Linked DNA regions of Homo sapiens. The protein of the gene in region 2 interacts with the protein of the main gene of each other region in a pairwise test. Each region holds a gene or a part of one and is shown on either strand. Other genes may lie near its edges.

Evidence for each region.
Region 1: the proteins of IRF8 (region 2) and ZBTB17 interact in a two-hybrid assay, tested with the Homo sapiens proteins (one study listed by BioGRID).

What each region holds. Positions count from the first base shown.
Region 1 is NC_000001.11:15,962,514-15,978,569, forward strand, and holds the start of ZBTB17 (zinc finger and BTB domain-containing protein 17), read right to left. Parts: upstream 13,589-16,056; 5' UTR 13,470-13,588; intron 10,613-13,469; 5' UTR 10,526-10,612; intron 5,131-10,525; exon of another isoform or gene 1-5,130. UniProt on the Homo sapiens protein: Transcription factor that can function as an activator or repressor depending on its binding partners, and by targeting negative regulators of cell cycle progression.
Region 2 is NC_000016.10:85,909,162-85,916,161, reverse strand, and holds part of IRF8 (interferon regulatory factor 8), read right to left. Parts: coding exon 6,989-7,000; intron 4,593-6,988; coding exon 4,504-4,592; intron 3,032-4,503; coding exon 2,926-3,031; intron 1,690-2,925; coding exon 1,642-1,689; intron 1-1,641. UniProt on the Homo sapiens protein: Transcription factor that specifically binds to the upstream regulatory region of type I interferon (IFN) and IFN-inducible MHC class I genes (the interferon consensus sequence (ICS)). Can both act as a transcriptional activator or repressor.

The DNA.
Region 1 (16,056 bases), on a different chromosome or scaffold from region 2:
TCACCCCCATTGAGCAGATGAGCAAATCACAGTTTAAGAAGTTGTTGCTGACCTAGGTTGCACAGCCCTGCCCACATTCAAGGCCAAATCCATCACACTCTAAAAACTGTGCCCTTTCCGCTATAGAAAAGGACAAAACTTCTGTGGACAAACAGAATACCGGGTTCAACAGATCCTGAGCCTGTACCAAATGGACAAATTCTCTGTCATCACAGGCACATAACAATCTCTCTTCCTTATACTAATGAGTGCGATAAAACATCGTATAAAACCCAGCAGTGGTTGGCTACGGTGGCACATGACTGTAGTCCCAGCTACTCGAAAGGCTGAAGCAGGAGGATCACTTGAGGCCGGGAGTTCAAGGCTGTAGTGAGCTTTGATTGCACCTATGAGTAACCACTGCACTCCAGCCTGAGCAACAGCGAGACCCTGTTTCTAAAAAAAATAAAAAAATAAAGCAAATCCAAGGCTGGGCACAGTGGCTCACACTTGTAATCCCAACACTGTGGGAGGCCAAGGCAGGCAGATTGCTTGAGCCCCAGAGTTTGAGACTACCCTGGGCAAGATAGTGAGAACCCATCTCTAAAGAATATATAAATTAATTAATTTTAAAAGACTCACACAATCCAGAAGTGAACATTACTAAGCATTAATATATTCACAGTTTGCTGCTGCCAGATGAACTGCAAAATGAAAACTATGAAACAACTCCATTTCTGGCAAAGGTGCCCTGGCCAATTCTCCCACCGCAAACAGCCACAAATGCTGACTAAAAATGATAAGACATCTTTTAAAATGCATTAAAGATTGGGAATGATAGTAAGAGGAGTTAAAAATAAAATAAAATGTATCAAAGAACTGATAGGTCAGTAAGTAATACTGAGAGGTCAAAACACATCTAAACAAGGGTTGAAATCCAGAGAGCAAGTGGAGCTTTGAAACCAGGTTTCAAGAAAAGACATTTGCAGAACTGGGCAAGCTTGAGCCCCACCCTCCACCCCATCCCCAGAGGGAGGTCTCACTGAACCTTGGTGGAAAGAAGACAATACAGAAACTGCCTATATCAAATCTTGGTGCTGAACAGAGGAGGGAAAAATCTTCCCTGAGAATGTATAATGATTAGCAGTCCCCCAAAAGGACTACAGCCCAAATTTACACCTTATGAAACACATATTTCAGGCAGATGAAAGTGATCCCAGAAAGAAAAGTATTAAATGCAAGAAGGAAGGAAGAACAATGAAAGTAGTATATATATAAGTGAGCAAACCTAAACAAATGCTGAACTAATGATGCTCATAAAAGTTGTAAAAGGACTGGCACAGTGGCTCACACCTCTAATCCTAGCACTTTGGGAGGCCAAAGCAGGAGGAGTGCTTGAGCCCAGGAGTTCAAGACCAGCCTGTCTTTACCAAAAGAGACCCTGTCTTTACCAAAAAAAAAAAAGTAAAAAGTAAAAATTAGCAGGGTGTGGTGGCGAGTGCCTGTGATCCCAGCTACTCGAGAAGCTGAGGCAGGAGGATTGCATAATCCTAGAAGGTCCAGGCTGCAGTAAGCTGCGATTGTGCCACGGCACTCCAGCCTGGACAACAGCGAGACCCTGTCTCTAGAGAGAAAAAAAAAAAAAGGTTTAAAAAGAACTAAAATGCACACCCACAGAATAAAAGTGGAAGAGAAAGTGATAGCAATTAAAGTGTTCTCAGGTCCTCACTGTTTGAGAGTAAGGTATAAAGACACTGACTAAATTTAGACTTTGATAAGTTATGTAAATTGAAAGCTATACCACATTTATGGATCAGATGACTCAACATCATAAAAATGTCAGCTCTACCCAAATTTATATATTATAAACTCAATGCAAATTCTAATAAAACATACCAACAATTTTTATGGCATTTGACAAATGTAATCTAACATGACAATGGGGCCAGGCAAGATGGCTCACGCCTGTAATCCCAACACGTTGGGAGGCTGAGGTGGGAGGATTGCTTGAGCCCAGGAATTCAAGACTAGCTTGGGCTACATGGTGAAACCCTGTCTCTACAAAAAAGACAAAAATAGCTGAGCGTGGTGGCGTGTGCCTCTAGTCTCAGCTACTTGGGAGGCTGAGGCGGAAGGATAGCTTAAGCCTGGGAGGTCAAGGCTGTAGTGAGCCAAGATCACACCACTGCACTACAGCCTGGGTGACAGAGCGAGACCCTGTCTCAGAAAAAAATAAAATGAAAATGGAAGAGCAATGGGCCAAGGATTTACTAGACACCAGTTCACCAGTTTTCTAAAATGATGTATTTTACAAGTCAGTGTGGTATTTAAACAGAGAACAGGCCGGGCACGGTGGCTCACGCCTATAATCCCAGCACTTTGGGAGGCCGAGATGGGTGGATCATGAGGTCAGGAGTTCAAGACCAGCCTGGCCAAGATGCTGAAACCCCGTCTACTAAAAATAAAAAAAAATTAGCCAGGCGTGGTGGCACGCATCTGTAATCCCAGCTACTCAGGAGGCTGAGGCAGGAGAATCGCTTGAACCTGGGAGGCGGAGTTTGCAGTGAGCTGAGATCGCGCCACTGCACTCCAGCCGGGGCAACAGAGTGAGACTCCGTATCAAAAAAAAAAAAAAAAGAATTTCTGCTCATCAAAAACAAAAAACAATATCCTACAGTGAAAAGACAAGCCACAAACTGGAAGTAGGTAGTTATAACACATATAACTGACAAAGAATTAGTATCCAAAATAAGAAATAAAAAACAAAAAACTAACAAAATGTCTACAAACCACCCAATAGAAAAATGAGCAAGACAATCTGTTGTTTCCGAGAAGATGAAATCTGAATGATCAGTAAGCAACGAAAAGATGCCCAACTCAGAACCAGGAAAATGCAAATCAAAACCACATGAGATGTCATTGTACGCCCACCAGATTAGTAAAAATGTTGAAGTCTGAAAATACCATTGTTGAGAGGATATGAGGCAAACGGAATTGTTGAAGGGTAAACTGGGGAAACAGTTTTGGCAACAACTTGGCATTATTTGTTAAGTTGAAGACGCACATACCCTGTGACTCCACTCCCAGCTGCAGTCCCTGGAGAGGCTGTGCATACATGTCCCGGGAATGTGAACAGTGGCACTGTTTGTCTCAGCAAAATACTGGAAACAACCCAAATGTCCACCAGTAATAGAAAGGATAAATAAATTCTCATACAATGGAACATTATTCATCTGTGAAAATGAAATACCACTCTATGCAACGTGGATTAATGTCAAGGCACTGAAGAAAACAATATGATTATATTAAGTTCAAAAACCTGCAGAATTAAACGGTACATTGTTTAGCAATACAAACACATGGTAAAACTATAAAGAAAAGCAAGAGTGATAAAAGCAAAACTCAGGGATGACTTGGGCCGGGTGAGATCAGGGAGGGGACACAGGGGACTCCAAAGGTAACAGTAAGTTCTTTTTGGAAACTGGGTAATGGGTACATGGAAGATGTTTCTTGTATCCTTATTCTTTACACTGAACACATTCTTTTGTATGGAGTCAACATTTAACAAAAACGATTTACAAAATTAAACAAGTTCTTTCTTACTTTAAATCATTTGCCAAGCATTAATTTGGGCTGCTGACTGAGTCACAGTAACGGGGGAAAATCCCTGAGGGGCCCACATGGCCCCGAGACTACAGAAATGAGAAGTGCTTTGCTCTCTGAGCTCTGGTGATACAGCTTCCCATGGGGCAGGCTGGCGAAATTCGAGTGGAGCCTGCCACTCGGGACAGGAAAGTGACTGCTTAGGTTAATAAGTTCCAGTATAGGAAGTGGTGCGGCTGGGGTGGGGAGAACAGATTCTACTGCCAGACCTTTCAAGACCAGAAGCTGAGTAGATTTTTGATGTTACAATGAACCCACTAAGCCTGCTTTCTGGCCCGCTCTCCACTCGCAGCGGGAATTCCCACCTCTGAGCCTCTGTCCACACTGCTGTTTAGATATGAGTGAACAACTCTCAGTTCTAACCATGCCCTTTGCTTCCTTCCTTTGAAGCCCAGCCCTACGAACCATCTCTCTTCAATTCATAACAAGCACGTTTGAATCCAAGAGCCTAAGCCCCAGTTTTCTACACGTATCTGTGCTGACTGCATTACTGAGGTCAACCTTAATCACCCTGGGACTGTCAAACTATTGATGTCCATAAGGATTCTCTGTGCTGGCATTCCACACACACGCAGCAAGGTTCAATGAGCCACAGTACTTACTCTCTGACCTCTATTATTTCAACCATTTAAAAATTGTGGCCACGGGAGGCTGAGGTGGGAGGATCGCTTGAGCCCTGGAGGTCGAGGCTGCAGTGAGCTATAATCCCAGCACTGCACTCCAACCTGGGCGAAAGAGCGAGACCCTGTCTCAAAAATTAAATTAATTAATTAATTAATTAAAAAACAAAAAAAAAAGCCGTGGCCAGCAAAAGAAGTAGATTATGATCTCCAGGACAATATGTTTTGTACATAAAATGTATTTGGAGTTTTTTGTTTTCATTAAAGTTGAGGTCCCTCCCTACTGTGATGTCAAACCCAACAATGGGTCACCCCACAGGACACCACCCCTGCTCGCACCTGTAATCCCAGTCCTTTGGGATGGCGCAGGTAGGTGGATCACTTGAGCCCAGGAGTTCAAGACCAGCCTGGGCAACGTGGCGAAACCCTATCTCCACAAAAAACAGAAAAATTAGCTAGGTGTGGTGGTGTGTGCTAGTAGTCCCAGCTACTTGGGGGGCTGAGTCAGGAAGATCGCTTGAGCCAGGGAGGTCGAGGCTGCAGTGAGCTATGACAGCTCCACTGCTCTCTAGCCTTGGCCACAGAGCAAGGCCCTAATTAAAAAAAAAAAGTGTTATATGAGGCTGGGTTTGGTGGTTCAAGCCTATAATACCAGCACTTTGGAAGGCTGAGATAGATGGATTGCTTGCGCCCAGGAGTTTGGGACCAGCCTGGGCAACACGGCGAGATTCTGTCTCTACCAAAAAAAAAAAAAGTTTCCTGGGAGGAGAGGGGGGTAACTTACTTTCCACAGGTACACGCTTGAGAACCTTCTGATTTTTCTACCTTGTGCATGCATTCCCATAGTAAATGTTGTTTTCTTCCTAAACTCTGCATATTTTCTTTTTTGACCCTCAAGAGTCTTCTATCAAATAACAGTAATTATGGAGCCAGGGACTCGACTAAGCACTTTACATGCATGACCTTATTAATAATTCCACCCAATAAAGTTATATTCAAGGTAACTATTATCCACATTTTACAACTGAGGAAACTGAGGGTTAGAAAGGTCAAGTACTTTGCCCAAGGGCATACAGCTAGTAATTATAAGAAGCAAACATAAGCCCACATACGCCTGGCTTAGGAGTTTGTGTTCCTAACTGCTACCCTATACTGCAGGGGTTTCTTAACTGGGGGTGATTTTGTGCCAGGAGATATTTGGCAATATCTGGAGACATTCTGGGGTGTCACCACTGGAGAAGAGTTACCACTGGCATCTATGGGGAGAGGCCAGAGACGCTACAGAAACCCACCCCCCACAACAAAGACTTATCTGGCCCCAAATGTCAGAAGTGTCAAGGTTGAGAAACCCTGCTATACTGGAACAAGACAAAAAGACAGAGAAACCATCTTCTGACCAAAACTCTCACAGTTAAGGTCAGAGTTCACCATGTCTATTTCCCATATGACAGCCAAATGCCCAATAAACAAGAAGCATGCTCAGCCCTCAATTACATGGAGTTTTCTCCAGCCCCAAATGCCAGTTCCTCCTCAGCCAATCAAGGCTGATCATCCACTCATCCGACACTTGCTGAGCGCCAGCTGTGTGCCAGGAAACAAGCTACACAGTGGCAGTACCAGGATAAATAAGACCCTGTCCTGCATCCAAGATGCTGGCGGTCTCATGGGAAGGCAGGCAAGGAAGCCTCGGATCATAATTGAGGTGAAAATGTGTTAATAGAGATCAAAAACAGGATGCTAAGAAGTCGCAGGGGAGGGGCTCCAAACTCACTTGGGTTGGGGGAACTGGGAATGGCTCAGAAAAGGCTTCCCAGAAGCATCTGAACTTGAAGGAATTAAACAGGCAGAGAGAATCCTCAAAACACCCCTTACCAGATCTCTCAGGATATGGTCTCTGAGTAGCCAAGGTTTGATGACTTTAATTAGAAAGCTTGGGGGAACTCTCCCAGAAAACAGAAGGGGCACAGAGTAGTCCTTGACTGTCCATGCACAACCTGGATAGCCCCTGCCACAGGGCAGGATGGCAACCTGGCGTCCCCACAGGTTTGGGCCTTCCTCAACTTCAAACCTGACTGGCCTCCAGCTTCCAACCAGCCTGTACCTTGCAGCAGGAGGTAAGTAACATTTCATAAATGTCCACTATACCAGGGGTTCCCAACCCCTGGGCCACAAACCACTGCTGGTCCGTGGCCTGTTAGGAAGTGGGCTACATGGCAGGTGAGTGGCGGGCGAGTGAGCACGCAAGTGAGCGAAGCTTCAACCTGTATTTACAGCCGCTCCCCATCACTTGCCATTACCACCTAAGCTCCGCTTCCTGTCAGATCAGCAGCAGCATTAGATACTCACAGGAGCTCAATCCCTATTGTGAGCTGCACATGTGAAGGATCTAGGTTGTGAGCTTCTCATGAAAATCTAATGCCTGATGATCTGTCACTGTCTTCCATCAACCCCAGATGGGATCGTCTAGTTGCAGGAAAAGCAGCTCAGGACTCCCACTGACTCTACATGATGGTGAGTTGTACAATTATTTCATTATATATTACAATGTAATAGTAATAGAAATAAAGTACATAATAAATGTAAGGTGTTTAAGTCAACCTGAAACCACCTCCCACCCCCCACCCCTCAGCCCCCTTTCTGTGATAAAATTGTCTCCTACAAAACCGGTCCCTGGTGCCAAAAAGGTTGGGGGCTGCGGGCCATGCCACGGCTGGTGGTCCTAGGTGCACGGGGGCCGAGGGGGCACGAGGCAGTAGTGTGGGGACTCCAGGTCCCAGAGGCCGCTCATGGGGTGGGAAGTGTGAGGCCGCTGCCTGCCTGGGCCTCGGAGGGTGGGGGGAGCAGGGCAGGGAGATGATAAATTGACCATTATCTCAGGATGTCTCTTTCTGACTGCCAATATCTTCGCCATCGCCAGCATCACCAACCCAGACTGGCTCAACACCAGGGAGTCTGTGGGAGCACTCACTGTGGGCCTCATGGGACAGTGTCAAACAATGCGTGGACGAGAGGGGATGTGCATCCCTCCCCAGCTTCCCCTGGAGTGGGTCACCATGCTGTTTTTTATCATCATGGGAATCATTTCATTGACTGTAAAATTCCCCTTAGACAGACGGAGGCAGCTAGGACTCTGGAGTCAGGTGTGAATCTGCCCTCCCATTGATTGTCACATGTGGTTTGCTGGTGGCTTCCCACTGGGGAAGAGAAGCTACAAAATATGTTCGATGGATAGCATTCACTGGGATGATGCTTTTCTGTATGGCTGCCGTCATATTTCCAATAGGATTTTACATCAATGAAGTCAGAGGTCAACCTTATAAATTACCCAACACCACAGTAGTTGGGTCATCATATGTACCTTTTGTCTTATCAATTTCTTTACAATAGTAGGACTTCTATTTGCTGCCAAGTTTATTTGCCAAGCTGATAAATGTCTAAATTGCTTGACTCTCACTTATTTTTGAAGGGTGAGGAGGACAAAGGCGAGACATCTGAGCAGCCCTCATGGGAAGATGCTCACATGAAACTGATGCTGAGAAGGAAAAATAAAAAAAGTTTTGATTTGCTCTCACTATGCACTTTGGACTTAAAGAAGAAAAAAAAAAAAAAGGAAGAGCCTTTTTGTTTTATTTTTGAGACAGAGTCTCACTCTGTCACCTAAGCTAGAATGCAGTGGCGTGATCTCAGCTCACTGCAACCTCCGCCTCCCGGGTTCTCCTGCCTCAGCCTCCCGAGTAGCTGGGACTACAGGCACCCACCACCACACCCAGCTAATTTTTTTTTTTTCTCTTGAGATGGAGTCTCGTTCTGTCACCCAGGCTGGAGTGCAGTGGCGTGATCTCGGCTCACTGCAACCTCCGCTTCCCAGGTTCAAGTGATTCTCTTGCCTCAGACTCCTGAGTAGCTGGGATTACAGGCGCCTGCCACTGCGCCCAGCTAATTTTTGTATTTTTAGTAGAGACGGAGTTTCACCATGTTAGCCAGGATGGTCTCGATCTCCTGACCTCGTGATCCACCCACCTCAGCCTCCCAAAGTGCTGGGATTACAGGCGTAAGCCACCGCGCCCAGCCAGGAGAGCCTTTTCCATAACCAAATACAGACAATACTGACTAAATCTCCTGAGCATATTCAGGCAGTCAGGTCTGCACTGTGATAGCAACCTAGAGAAGGAGAATGCTTTCTACTGAAAAGCATGTGGCCCTTTGTGACTCTGTTGTTCCATTTTTAATATCTAATGATTCAATAGAGGGAAAAAAAAAGTCTAAGTAGTTATGTATCATGGTGGACCAGAGGGATGCAAGAGAAGTTCATGTGGGGCTGGCCTCACCTCCTGAGAAATCAGTGTTCACAACTTCCTTGTAATAGTATGAGCCTTTGGCACCATTACTGCACCAAGAAGCCAATAGATCAAAACTTGTTTGCTAAAATGTATGTAAAAATTCTGAAATTCCCTATTCTGTGTGTATGAAAAAAAAAAATCAAACACTAAGACACATGTTTTGGGTAGGTAGGTGGGTGGGTGGGGGAAATCTCTCTCTCTCTCTGTATGTGTGTATGTATATATATATATGTACATACACACACAATATATATATATACACACACTATATATATATACACACTATATATATACACACACACTATATATATATACACACACACTATATATATACACACACACTATATATACACACACACTATATATATACACACACTATATATATATACACACACACTATATATATACACACACACTATATATATACACACACACTATATATATACACACACACTATATATATATACACACACACTATATATATACACTATATATATAAAATATATATTTTGCTGACAGAAAAAAAAAAACGAAAAGGTTGGGGAGTGCTGCACTATGCAGCAAACCCTGTGAATTACCTGCCTGACCTCATGTAATTCTCCAGACAATTCTGTGAATTACCTGCCTGTCCTCATGTAATTCTCCAAACAATTCTGTCATCCCTATTTTACAGATGAGGAAACTGAGGCTCAGCAATGAAACTGAGTAAAAGGCTTGCTGTCTGATGTGTCAGAAGACAATCTTGTGATTAGGAAAATTAATAGTCATTACTTTTTTTTTTTTTAACTCTTTGGGACACAGTTTCAGAAGGAACTGACTGTCAGGACACAGAGCCACTCAACGGGAGGGCAGATTCACACCTGACCCCAGAGTCCTAGCTGCCTCTACCTGTCCAAGGGGAATTTTACAGTGATCAGTCCAAAATGCGCGGTTTGCAACATCTTCACCCCCTCAGGAAAGCCTTCCAGCGCCAGTGCATCCTCCCTGTGTGCGCACACCCTCCACCAGCCCTCCAAGGTATTTCCTGCATTGCATTGTGAGGATACACATGGCTGGGAGCACCTGCTCCCGGGATTCAGTCTTACTTGTGCCAGCATCCCTAGCACCCAGCACAATGCCTGACACATGTTGGGCACAGAAACAATGAATGGATAAACAAGCCTGGCCTCCCTGGGCCCAAGCCCTGTAAACCTACCCAAAGCCAGAGCAGCCTGCCTTGGGGACTCAGTGGACCTCCCCTCAGGCTGGGATCACACCCCCAAGAGAGTAATCCAGACAGACTGAGGACAGAGCAGGTTCTCTCAGCCAGCTTTTTCTCCAGCACTGAAACAGTCACAATCTGTTCTTTAGCTGTGCACCAGATGCAGGAACTGGCTTATGTTTGGGAACCATGTTGCACAAAAATCCCACCTTAAACATTAGAACTTTAAAAGGAATGAGTGTGTGCTCGCTGCTCTGTGTCCCTTTTTGCCCTAGGGAGATCATACATGATGGCAGGAGCTACAGCAGCCAGCTTGGACCATGAGATGGAAGCCTAAGTTTGAGCAAGAAAAGCCACATTATCAAAGGAATCCTGCTCCCAGATGATCTCACAGAACACAGCAAGCTGTGCTACCAGCTCTGGACTGTGTACTTCCAGAATGTTAAGGAGCAAGGAATAAACTTCTGTTTCCACCACTGTAGATTTCACCTAACTAAAGGCGTGAGCATTGCCCAGTGATCATCCACTCTGGCCTCTCTCTGCAGGTAAAACAATAATAGTAAGATCAACAATTTCCCAACCAAACTGTAACTGGGATTTTGTCATTACTATATAATTTTGAAGAAAAGGCTATCAGGAAAGAATCATTTGAATCATGTTGAACCTAGAGAAAAAGGACAAACTGATCTGATTTGTTTCATCCTTGAGTATTACAGACATACCTCAGATTTCCAGACAGCCCAGGCTACTCTTTTCTGACAGTTTGCCTGTGTAAACTCCAGCTTGGCTCCCCTCGTCCGGCTCATTACCTGAATCAATGACACACAAGTGGAAAATCTGATGAGAACCTAAAGGGTACCTGCTCCCTCAGAGCTGCCTTTTCATGCATCCATCAAACATAGACAAATACAGAGTGCTTAGCACAGAGCCTGGCCCAAGGAAGTGCTGAATAAATGGCCTGCTCTGTGCCAGATAGCATGCTGACACTGGGACACAAAGATGCACAGACTCAGCCTCAGGCCCTGCTCTCAAGAACTCCAGCTCAATAAGAGACAGGACACAATGTTAAGAAGGAAAAACGACAAGGTTTGTATCCAAGCATTACTGCAGCATTGGCACTGCTCTGGGATATCCTGGACACTTTGTTTCTCATTGCATACCCTACCCTAGGTGAGCTCATCCCCTCCCATGACTTCAGTGACCTTTGATGGTGATAACTACTAGCTGAACAGGTGCACTTGAATGTTTTACAGGCATCCAACTCCAACATGTTCAAAACTAAACATATCTGCCCTCCCCCAGATCTGCTCCCCGTACTGCTCCCTATCACATGGAGCAGCATCCAACACCCATCAGTCAAAAACTGGGGTGATCCTGACTCCTCCCTGCCCCTAACTCTCATCAAACTAATCACCAAATTGTGTCAATTCTATCGCTAAAACCATCTCTCCTCACTCTCTGCCTTTAACTCACACCTTTATTTCTCACTTGGATTATTCTAGCAGGCTCTTAATTGGCCTACAGGCCCACTCCCTTTGATACATTCTTCACTTAGCCAGAGTGATCTTCCTAATCCACAAATCTGATTCGTGGCCAGGCATGGTTGCACATGCCTATAATCCCAGTACTTTGGGAGGCTGAGGCGGGAGGATCATTTGAGGCCAAGAGTTCGAGACCAGTCTGGGCAACATAGTGAGACCCCATCTCTACTAAAAATTTAAAAAATTAGCCAGGTGTTATGGTGCACGCCTGTAGTCCCAGCTAGTTGGGAGGCTGAGGCAGAAGGATCACTTGAGTTCAGATCAAGGCTGCAGTGAACTATGATTATGCTGCCACTGCACTCCAGCCTGGGTGACAGAGCAAGACGTAGTCTCAAAAAAAAAAAACAAAAACAAAAACAAAAAAAACCTGATTCTTTTATTTCAGGCTGGAAATAAAAGAATCCTCCCACCTCAGCCTTCCAAGAAGCTGGGACCACCAGAGGTGTACTCCACCATGCCCGGCTATTTTTTTTTTCCTTTTTTTTTTTTTTTCTTTTAATAAAGATGGGGTCTTGCCATGTTGCCCAGGCTTGTCTCAAACTCCTGGGCTCAAATGATCATCCCACGTTGGCCTCCCAAAGTGCTAGAATTACAGAGTAAGCCACCGCACCTGGCCACAGATCTGATTCTTAAATGGCTTCCCATTAACCTAAAGTTTAAAGTCCTTAACTAGGTTTACAACGTCCCCTAAGACCAGACCACAGCTTGCTGCTGCTTTTTTTTTTTTTCTTTTTTGAGACGGAATCTCGCTCTGTCGCCCAGGCTGGAGTGCAGTGGCGCCGTTTCGGCTCACTGCAACCTCCGCCTCCTGCGTTCGAGCGATTCTCATACCTCAGCCTCCTGAGCAGCTGGGACTACAGGCGCGCGCAAGCACGACCGGCTAATTTTTGTATTTTTAGTAGAGACGGGGGTTTCACCATATTGGCCAGGCTGGTCTCGAACTCCTGACCTCAAGTGATCTGCCCGCCTGGGCCTCCCAAAGTGCTGAGATTACAAGCGTGAGACAACGAGCCCGGCCCAGTCTGCTTCTTTATTTAGCCTGATCTCTCTCTCCTCTCTCTACGAAGATGAGTTTTCTCACAAACTACACCCTTAACTGGGAATACCCGTTTTCCTGCCTCACTCCGCTGAGCTTCCCTTAGATCTTAGCTTTCTGGGGGACAGAAGCCTCCCGGGATTCCCCCTAGGCTGAGTGATGTGTCTCTACTCCGTGCTTCAGAGGAAGGAGGGCTTTCTGCCCTCGCAGCAGTATCAGAATTGCTGATTTACCTGTATGTCTCCCACATGGGTCTCTGAGCTCTGGGTGACAATGGTGATACAATTAATAACAGCAACAAACACACAGCATTTACTTTGTACCCATAAGTGTTCTAGGAGCCTCATTTCCCCTTTATTACAATCTTAGGAGGCTGATTTTATTATCATCTCTGCTTAAAGGATGAATAAACCCAGGCAGAGAGAAAAAGCCAAAAGTGCCTAAGGTCACAGCAGGGAATGGGGATTCAAACCCCGCTGCTGGGCTCCACGGTTCACACTCCTAACTCCAGGATCGAGGATCCTGGAGGATCGAGTCCGCCCGCATCACTCGCTCTAGCTTCACCATCTATCAGGTGCTGAACCACCGTCCGCAGTACGAATGAATGAATGAAATGCTTTTATACAGGGACAGCGTCGGCCTCCTCTGTCAGCTCCTCCTAGGCCCGGGCAGCCCCGCTCCCTCCCGCCCCGGCCGGCCGACAGGAGCTGCCCCGGCACTGCGCTCCCTCGCGGCCGCAGAACGCCCACCCTCGACAGCGCGCGGGGTCAAGGGGCGGTGACAGCCGTGCGGCGGGGGCGGAGATGCTACCAGCTGGGGTGTCATCCAGCCCGGGAGGTGACACGCGCCCCCTCGCCCGGGCGGTCGCCTGGCCGCCCACTCCCCGCCAGCACGCCCGGCGACGCCCCCCGCCCCGCCACCCCACAATCTCCCGCCCAGCGGTGTCCCCTCAGCCCCGGTTGGCGTCCCATTCCACTTCCCTCCCCTCCCCCACACAACCGTCACCGGCGTCCCACCGCGCCCCATCCTCCGCCGCCTCCGCCCCGGCTCCCGGGACTTCCCCGGCCCCGGGCGATTGTTGACACTCACCTGCCATGTCCCGGACCCCACCGCAGAGGGAGGTGCATCACGGCCGCGAGAAGGCCGGGGACGGCACTCCAGAGCAGACAAAGGGCGCCGCCATGTTAGAGTCGGGCGGAACCGACCTCGCAGGCTTCCCGGCTGCAACTTCCGGCGCATGCGCAGCGTCCTCGCTAGGAGAGCGCCCATAGACAGACGCATGCGCCTAGCTATCCAAAAGTTCCACCTTACAGTACTTCGGCGCTCAGAGTTGTCCTCATTGTACCCCTGCCTTGGTTTCTCTTCCAAATATAACAGTAACATCATGTGTTCAGCTCTTACTGTGTGCCAGGCACTGTGTTAAGCGCTTTACATGCATTATCTCTTTAAATCCTCACACCAATTATAAGATAGTATTATTCTCCTAATTTTAAAAAAGGGAAAACAGACTCAAAAAGTGTAAATCAATGTCCATGGTCACATATCTTGTAAGTGGTGGACCGGAGATATGAATCTACTTGTGGCTTCAAAGCTGCAGATCCCAGTTGTGTTTTTCTACCTTCTAAACCGAACATTATCCCCTTCCCTGATTGTCTTGGACGTGAATAAAGGTGTCTGAAAACAAAAGTGTCTGCAGACTTGCATGGCCCCTCCGTGGCCCCTCTTCTACCTTTTTGGTAGCTCTAGGCCACTGACTTCTCCACTTTCTCACAGTCTGAGGGCTTTCTCCTTTGTTTACTTCTAGGCCTGCATATTTTCCATAATCTATAATTTTAACAACACTCTTGCCACTACTGTAAGCTCTTTTGCCCCCTTGCCTTTTTGTCACATGGATTTGGTAAGAATACCAACGCTGTGTGAATCCAAATGCACCTTTTCTCTTTGTTAGCTCCCAAACAGCCAAGCACAGCTGAAGAAAGTATGCAGTGGGGAGACTGTTCCCTAGAGATTCATGTCCACTAGCCTTCAGTGGGATGCAACATATGCCAATCTGGCAACTCACTCCTGTCTTCACAATGGCTAGAGAAACAAAAAAGCCCAGCAGTTGACTTCACCCCTTCTTGTCTTTAGGTTTTTTTTTTTTTTTTGGAGACAGAGTCTCACTCTGTCTTCCAGGCTGGAGTGCAGTGGCGCTGTCTCGGTTCACTGCAAGCTCCGCCTCCCGGGTTCACGCCATTCTCCTGTCTCAGCCTCCAGAGTAGCTGGGACTACAGGCGCCCGCCACAACACCTGGCTAATTTTTTGTATTTTTAGTAGAGACGGGGTTTCACCATGTTAGCCAGGATGGTCTCGATCTTCTGACCTCGTGATCCACCTGCCTCAGCCTCCCAAAGTGCTGGGATTACAGGCGTGAGCCGCCGTGCCCGGCCGTCTTTCTTTTCTTTCTTTTTTTTTTTTTTAGATGGGGTCTCGCTATGTTGCCCGGCTGGACTGAAACCCCTAGGCTTAAGCATCCCATTTCAACCTCCCCAGTAGCTGAGACTACAGGCATGTGCACCCACAACTGGCTAACTTCACCCGTTCTTTTTAACTATATTTTTAATTTTTATTTCAGTAGTTTTTGGGGAACACATGGTGTTTGGTTACATGGATAAGTTCTTTAGTGATGATTTCTGTGATTTTGGGGGACCCATGACCTGAACAGTGTACATTCTACCCAAGGTGTAGTCTTTTTTTTTTTTTTTTTTTTTTTTTGAGATGGAGTCTTGCTCTGTTGCCCAGGCTGGAGTGCAGTGGCGCCATCTGGGCTCACTGCAAGTTCCGCCTCCCAGGTTCACGCCATTCTCCTGACTCAGCCTCCCGAGTAGCTGGGACTACAGGCGCCCGCCACCATGCCCGGCTAATTTTTTGTATTTTTAGTAGAGACGGGGTTTCACCGTGTTAGCCAGGATGGTCTGGATGTCCTGACCTCGTGATCCGCCCGCCTCGGCCTCCCAAAGTGCTGGGATTGCAGGCGTGAGCCACTGCGCCCAGCCAACCCAAAGTGTAGTCTTTTATCCCTCACCCCTCCCACCTTTCCCCCTGAGTTCCCAAAGTCCATTGTGTCATTCTTATGCCTTTGCGTCCTCATAGCTTAGCTCCCACCTAAAAGTGAGAGCATATGATATTTGGTTTTCCATTCCTGAGTTACTTCATTTAGAATAATGGTCTCTAGCTCCATCCATGTTGCTGCAAATGCCATTATTTCATTCCTTTTTATGGCTGAGTAGTATTCCATGTTATATATATATACCACATTTTCTTTATCCACTCGTGCATTGATGGGCATTTGAGATGGTTCTATATGTTTGCAATTGTGAACTGTGCTGCTACAAACATGCGTGTGGAAGTGTATTTTTCATATAATGACTTATTTTCCTCTCTGTAGATACCCGCTAGTGGGATTGCTGGATCTAATGGCAGATTTACTTTTAGTTCTTTAAGGAACATCCATATTGTTTTCCATAGTGGTTGTGCTAGTTTACATTCCCACCAGCAGTGCAAAAGTGTTCCCTTTTCACCACAACCATGTCAACATCTATCATTTTTTCATTTTTGATTGTGGCCATTCATGCAGGAGTAGGTATGGCATTATGGTTTTGATTTGCATTTGCCTGATGATTAGTGATATTGAGCA
Region 2 (7,000 bases):
TGTGCTCGGCACAGGTAAGCACCAGTTAAAGAAACTGGGTAACAGGACAAATGCTTATCTACACAGACAAGACTCCTGAAGTTATAAACCACAGACTATGGTCTACACAGCTCATATCAGGTGCTGTGCCCAGGGCTTGGGACCTACCAGCACATTTAACCCTGTAAGGTAGATTATTATTATACCCATTTTCCAGGTAAGGAAACTGAAGCATGGATTTACATAGAGGTGGGGGCGGGGCTGGACAGAGGTACCAAAGCTCACAGCTTCTAGAAGGATGTTCTGTGCATGAGGCAGTGGCTATGACCCTGCTGGACTAATTCAAGGACATGCTCTCCCCAAATTGTGCCTCTGCATCTCACCGAGATGGCTCAGTTCTGTGCCTGGCTACTCCACAGCCCCCGGAAAGCACTGGTCAGCAGACTCCCAGGCCATAGCCCAGTGGCTGGCGAGCCCGGAGGCTTAGCCTCATGACCCAGGCCTCCCAGAACTGAGACCCTGTGAGCATGGCGGCTGCCGGGCACAAGGAGGCCTCAAGAACAGGCTCCAGCCAGAGGCCTGCGCGACCTGGATGAGATCCTGAACCTCCCAGCCTCAGTCTCCTCATCTGTGAAGCCGGAGTGAAAACAACCCCCCAGCTCAAAGGGCTGCCAGGAAATAGACAAGAGCTTCATGGACAGGGCATTGCCATCTCGACAGTTTTCCTGCCTGGGTGAGCACCGACCTCTGCTACCCACAAAACTGTCCCATGCAGTCCTCAGCCAGCACGCTTCTATCCCTGCCCCATTTCCTCCCCTGCCCAGAGGCCCAGCCCTAACGTTCTGTGGCCCATCTGATGAGACCAGCTGCTCGCCTCCCACAGAACCAGCCAATGCTGGAAGATGCCCCAGCTTCCTTGTTCAGAAGATGCCGTCACCACGCCTGAGCGTCACTTCCAGGGGCAGCTGGCAGAAGTGCAGCCAGGGTCCTTAGCCGCTGAGACTACACACAAAGGCCACCTCTGCCCACCGCGGGGAGGCCCCCAGTCTGGAGCACACAAGCTACCTGAGCCCGCGAAATGGGAACAGCTGCATCCACCTAGAGGTGGTGGGCAGGGGAGCCTGAGATGAGGCTCTGAGAGGCTCCACCACTCCACCTGCAGCCCCAAAAGAGAGGCAGCGCTGGGACAGACGCTGGCCTGTCCCTCACTGTCTCTCCTGCACAGTTACAGCCTCAAAGAGTACTCTGTCTACTTGCTGGTCCAGTCCAAGAAAAGTGGCCTCAAAAGAGGCCACTCGCCAGCTCCTGACCAAATGGTGAGGAGGAGAAATTGGGGCCTCGACTTCCACACCAGGTCCTGCTCATCCTCAGAACCGGGCCTAGACTTCCACACGAGGTCCTGCTCATCCTCGGAACGGAGCCTCGACTTCCACACCAGGTCCTGCTCATCCTCAGAACCAGGCCTAGACTTCCACACCAGGTCCTGCTCATCCTCGGAACGGAGCCTAGACTTCCACACCAGGTCCTGCTCATCCTTGGAACCAGGCCTAGACTTCCACACCAGGTCCTGCTCATCCTCGAAACCCCGCAACCCTGCTTGGGTTATCTGGGCTTTGTCTTCAAACAGTGCCCACGCCCCTCTCAGCCCGGACCACCCCGTACCTGAATGGTGCGCGTCGTAGGTGGTGTACCCCGTCACCAGCGGCACGCCTGCAGGAGAAACAGAAAAGCAAGCTCAGAGCCACCCAGGTGTGGTGTACAGGGAGTAACCCCAATCGCTCCTTCTCCAAAAGTCCCTTAAAAGGCTGCACATGGCGTGCCAGAGGCTCCAGGGAGCACAGGCTTCCGCTGAATTCAGTGCTTTTCCCCACCAGAGCAGAGAGCCATTGTTTCACAAATGCAGAAAACCAGAGTGGCAAGTCGGGGGGACTTCCTCTATGCTGTGGGATTTCTGACCATGTGTCAATGTGACACTGTGGGGCCACATTTCCTTCCCACCTCAAGCACTTACCCCCAGAATACCACTGGACTGCATACCCACCACCCAGGGCTTATCTCTGGGGGAGAGCCTGGGGGTGCAAGCTAGCTTTCCGGATGGTGTTCCTGCAGCACAGACAGAGGTGCCTTTCCAGGGACCTCTTACTCGACACCCAAGGCCTGGCAACCTTCAAGGCCTCCGGGGCCAGCTGCCACCTCCCAGACTCCCACAGGGGATGTAGGGCTAGGGGGAAGACGCCGAGGGAGGAAGCAAACACATTCACCGGCTGCAGAAGCCTGGGCCTGGCGGGGGCGGGGGCATTTCAAGCAGCTGGGGGTTCTGAGTGGCTCATCAAAAGAGAATCAAAGGATGAATGCCTCACTTAACCCTCGTGACCCCATGGCGCAAGTCCTGGTTTCTCTGTTTTACGGATGAATAAACTGAGGCTCAAGATCTGTAACTTCCCAGCGTGGGATTCAAATCTAGGGCTCTGAACAAACTTCCTGTTCCTGGTCTGAGTTCTCCTCTCCTCCAAATGCCCTGGGCTCTCTTTGGTTCTGAGGGGGTCCTTAATGTCGTAACAGACTGGCCGACCTAAGGGAGTACCCAGGGAGGGGGCGCCAGCGTGGCCAAGAGCTGCATCTTCCCTCTGGCCTTACACAAGTTCACTAGACCCTCTTCCCTGGACTTTCCCAGGAGCGTGGGGAGAGCTGGCATGGACATCACCTAGGGAACAAGCAGCTTGTGCCCTCCTGAGAAGCAGCGGAGAGCAGGGCCAAAGGCACAGCTGGGCTCTGCCCTCATGTTGGGAAACCAGGGCCATCGTTCTTCACCTCTCAGGGCTGAGCTACCTTTAATGAGACATGGATCATGATAGCAACAACCACCCCCACTCCGTCCCTGGCTGGTGGAATGCCGTAAACCCTTCAGGCCATGCCTGGTGACAATTCTAGGCCACCCACCCTCACCTGTGCTGGGCTGCTGCGCCCACCAGTCTGGAAGGAGCTGACTCCGACAGGCCTCCGGCGGGGAAGGGCTCCTTTTGATCATCCCCATGTAATCGTCCACAGAAGGCTGCACAGTCAGGGGAGGGAGAGGAGGGCAGCTCAGTCACTGATCTCCCACCTGGGGCTCCAGTGTTTGTAAAAATGAACAGTTCATGTGTAAGTAAAACCATATTGTCACCTTTATCTCAGGAGACAAAAGTCAAGTTTCACTTTGCAACCTGAAAGGCCCTAGGCCTTAAATCTACCAGGCTTAGCATTCAAACCATGTGGCCAAATTACTAGGCTCTTTGGGGGCCACTAATAAGTTTCTTGGCCCTTTCCACGACCTGCCTGTTGCAGACCCAGTGTTCCAGATTATCCAATTGCCCTCAACGCCCTGGACACGCAGACAAGCTCTGAGACACCAGTGAACAGTGATGCTGGCCAAAGGCTGCCATGCTTTCAAGAATCTCGCTCAACGAGCCACATGCAGATGTTCAATCTCTGGCCCATTCCTTAAAGGAGGCTGATAAATCCAATTATGAAATGTTTTGAAATTGCTTTTCTTGTGACCCCGGTGTGGCAATCCGATTATCTCACTCTCTCAGCTGAGTCAGCAGAAAAGCCTTCTACAGAAAACAGGACATTGGTGGAGGGCCACGAAGCCAAGAATTCACTCAGTCGGCTGCCAAAGACCACCCAGACACTTGGCAGCTGCCTGTGCAGAAGAGCAAGGCCGTTCGGGTAGGTTACATTCTGTTATCTTCATTCTCTGACAGCCAAGCTACTCTTAAGGATTCCATTATTGCTATGTTATTAAGAAGAAGAATTTATGCAGTACTCACACACAACCTTTTGCAAAGGCTGCACGAGGTTTAGTCATGCAAATGTCCACCTTGTAATACCCATGAAAAGCATAGTTAAGAGGCCAAAGACAGAAGAAAAGGGCATCCCAATAGCTGAAATGGGTATACAAAAGCCATGTATTCTTGCCTAAGGAGGCCCCGATTATGCTCTCCCTTGTAGCCTGTTAGGAATTTATGTGCAATGTGAACATGCTTGGTTATCCAGCTTTCCAATCCGTTAAGGAATAAAAACTGCACATTAAAAAGGAAGCAATCAAATAGCCATGAGAGCTGGTACAACAACACCCGCCATCATGACAAGCGCAGGCAGCAAGGAAAGTTTACATTTTGTTCTCTGTAGCCTGCTAGGAAGGCAAGGGAATTCACGATGCCATTTAAAAGACTGCTGTCCAAAGTGTTCGAACAGTTTGGAGCTGGAAGGAACTTCACTGACACATAACCGGCAGCTCAGGCCCAGCCCTAGGGATGAAGGAGGGATCTGGCGTGAGGGGTTGACCTGTCGGCAGAAGCTGGCCTGGGGAGGGGGCGCCCAGCCAGTCCTTCCGTTCCAGATCTGTACAGGTGGAGATGCCACTTCCTCAGCGAGCCCGAGGGTCTGGCTGCCTTCATACAGCAAGAACGGTGCCCCTCCCTGCCAGAAGACATGAGACTCCTCCTGGCAGGGCCAGACCCCTGAAATGCTGCCTCTGCTTACCTCCTTGATCAGCTCGTCGATTTCAGAGCGACCGCACTCCATCTCTGTAACTTCATTCACGCAGCCAGCAGTTGCCACGCCTAGTTTGCCTACAGAAAACCAGACAAACACCATGACACATGGCACGGAGGCATCACAGCCTTTGCTGAAGCCATAATCTACTCTGTAAATGCTGAGTTTAAGGAAACATTAAGTTAGTGAGTGTCTTCATTGGTTTGGGAAAGGCACAGAATTTTTTTCCCATGCTTCAGTCATCTGATCAGCAAAGTCAAAAGAGAGAAGTTGGTGGTGGTGGTGGTGGTGGTTGTTTCTGCTAACACTTTTAAAGGATAAAGACAGCACTTTGGTCTCTTTCTTCTATTTTCTGAGATCCAAAATGAGTCTGTATCAGATATACTTTACAGCAAGCATTTGCTAACTTAAGAAGGTTACATTTATAAGACAGGGCATTTGAAAACACTCACCGATTTCCTGGCAAAACGTGTTGGCAGGTTGGGGTCTTTTTTGTATTGCCAGTTGGCAGGAAATCTCTTTTTGGCCTTTCCAAATATACACATGTGCATCAGTGCACACAGCCATGCACACACACACACCGCAGCACCCTCACTGATGCCCAGTGGGCACCAGCCGTAATCACAAACCGCCTAAAGGTGCACAGTGTCCACAGGGGCACGCTGGGCCAGCCTCTGCTCTTTCCCTTCTCATGCCGCTTCCTCAGTCGACAACTTACCTTATGAAGTTTATCAGTGTGAGACGTATCACAACCAACACTTACAAAAATTCATTATTCCCAGTGACCTACAGAATTTACCCACTGTTTCCTCCTGGCTGAATTTTGATTCCATTTCGATAGATTAAAGAATTCACTGAGAAGCTACTGATGGGGAAGTAGGGAGCAGGTGGGGCGCCCACCATGGAGCCTGCAAACCACTGAGGTTAGAGGCGAGTGGGCCCCTGTAGGCAATTATGCAAATGCTACATTGCTTCACCCCTGAGAACCTCCTGCTGCTTCTTTAACATCACTAGCAGGTGATGCTGGCTGCACCCCATGCTATAAACAAGTTGGGGTCACCTGCCGGTTCAAGCCTGACTGATCTTGGGGGTGGCAGTAGGGGCCAAAAGAAACTTCTCTATTCCTTCAAATCACACTTTACTTTTTGGTGATAAAAAAAATTGTCCAAAACTGGGAAATGAGGCAAAAAGATGACTGCTTAGCCTTTCAGGGTCACCCCAGACTATTATATAGAGGTTTCCTCCTAAAGGGCACCCGATTCTCCAAGGGAAGGTCAGTTTGTTGGCCTTACTATTTAGTATTGACTAGGGTTCACGCTCAGTAGAGTTAGGTGCTAATTGCAGACGATTAGGCTACAAACGCCCCAAACCGCAATTGTACTGTCCGGGTCGGGCATCGGCTTTGGCTCAGCTTTCTCGTTCATGGGCCACATTCACCAGCACCTCGGATTCTCTGTCCACCATCTTTACCATCATGCTGCCTCCTTCATGACGATTACACAACTCTCTGACACAGATTCACTATAGATTTGTTTGAATCACCATTTTAACTTCTTAAAAAATTCTAAGTCAACACCCCCACAGCGGGAAGAGTGCAAACTTCAAACTTCTGCACAGCCCCAAGAAGTTTTGGGGGTTTCTGTTTCTTACAGGCATTCGTGGACTACTCAGAAGCTTAGAAGGAGAAAGCCAGAGTGGGTTATTCTAAAAGCCTCATCAAGTGGCTAAGAAAATCAATGTGTTAAAAGCATGTTCTAAACCAGCGCTGGTAATTAGGTTTTATCTCATAAATCAGCTACAATTCATGGCAGCGGCACAGCACAGGGCTTTGAGAAGCCTTCTGAGGCCAGATCCCAGCTCAGTACTTTGGGATTTATTTTAGTGATGTAGGACCAGGGTGCGGCATGTTTTTGCTGTCCTGCTTTAATCTGTCACAAATGCTTTCTTGGGATTTGAGAGCTGGAAGAAACCTCAGGAATGATCACATCCCGGAGTTCCCAAATAACAATCAGGATCTAGTAACACACTGAGGCATATCCCATCTCCAACAACGAAGGCCATGGTGCCATCTTTGACAACTTCATCTGAGAGCTTTACTCCCAACCCTCATGATCCAGGCCTTCTGTGGTCACCATATTTTCCCCTGGCCTCCTCTGCAAGCTGCTGGAAAATGAAAGGATTCCTCATCAGAAACTGCTGGAGGATGCTTGTTCCTGTCCAGGGAGGCCCTACAAATGTCTGTGGTCAGGCAGCAAGTGGGGCACAGGTTGGGCAGCACCCAATCTCCTCCGCCCTTCCCTCTGAGGTCACTGGAAAGAGATCTCAATTTCTGCTTACACGAAGGAGAGAACTGCTTTGTTTAACTGAAACTATGTGCCCCAGACCCTGTGTCTACCCCAGACCCAAGTTCTGTGGTGAAGGCTACAGGCCAGGGCAGCTTCTGGAAGGTTTCATGCCCATAAAGGATAGTTACATTTTTGCTCTT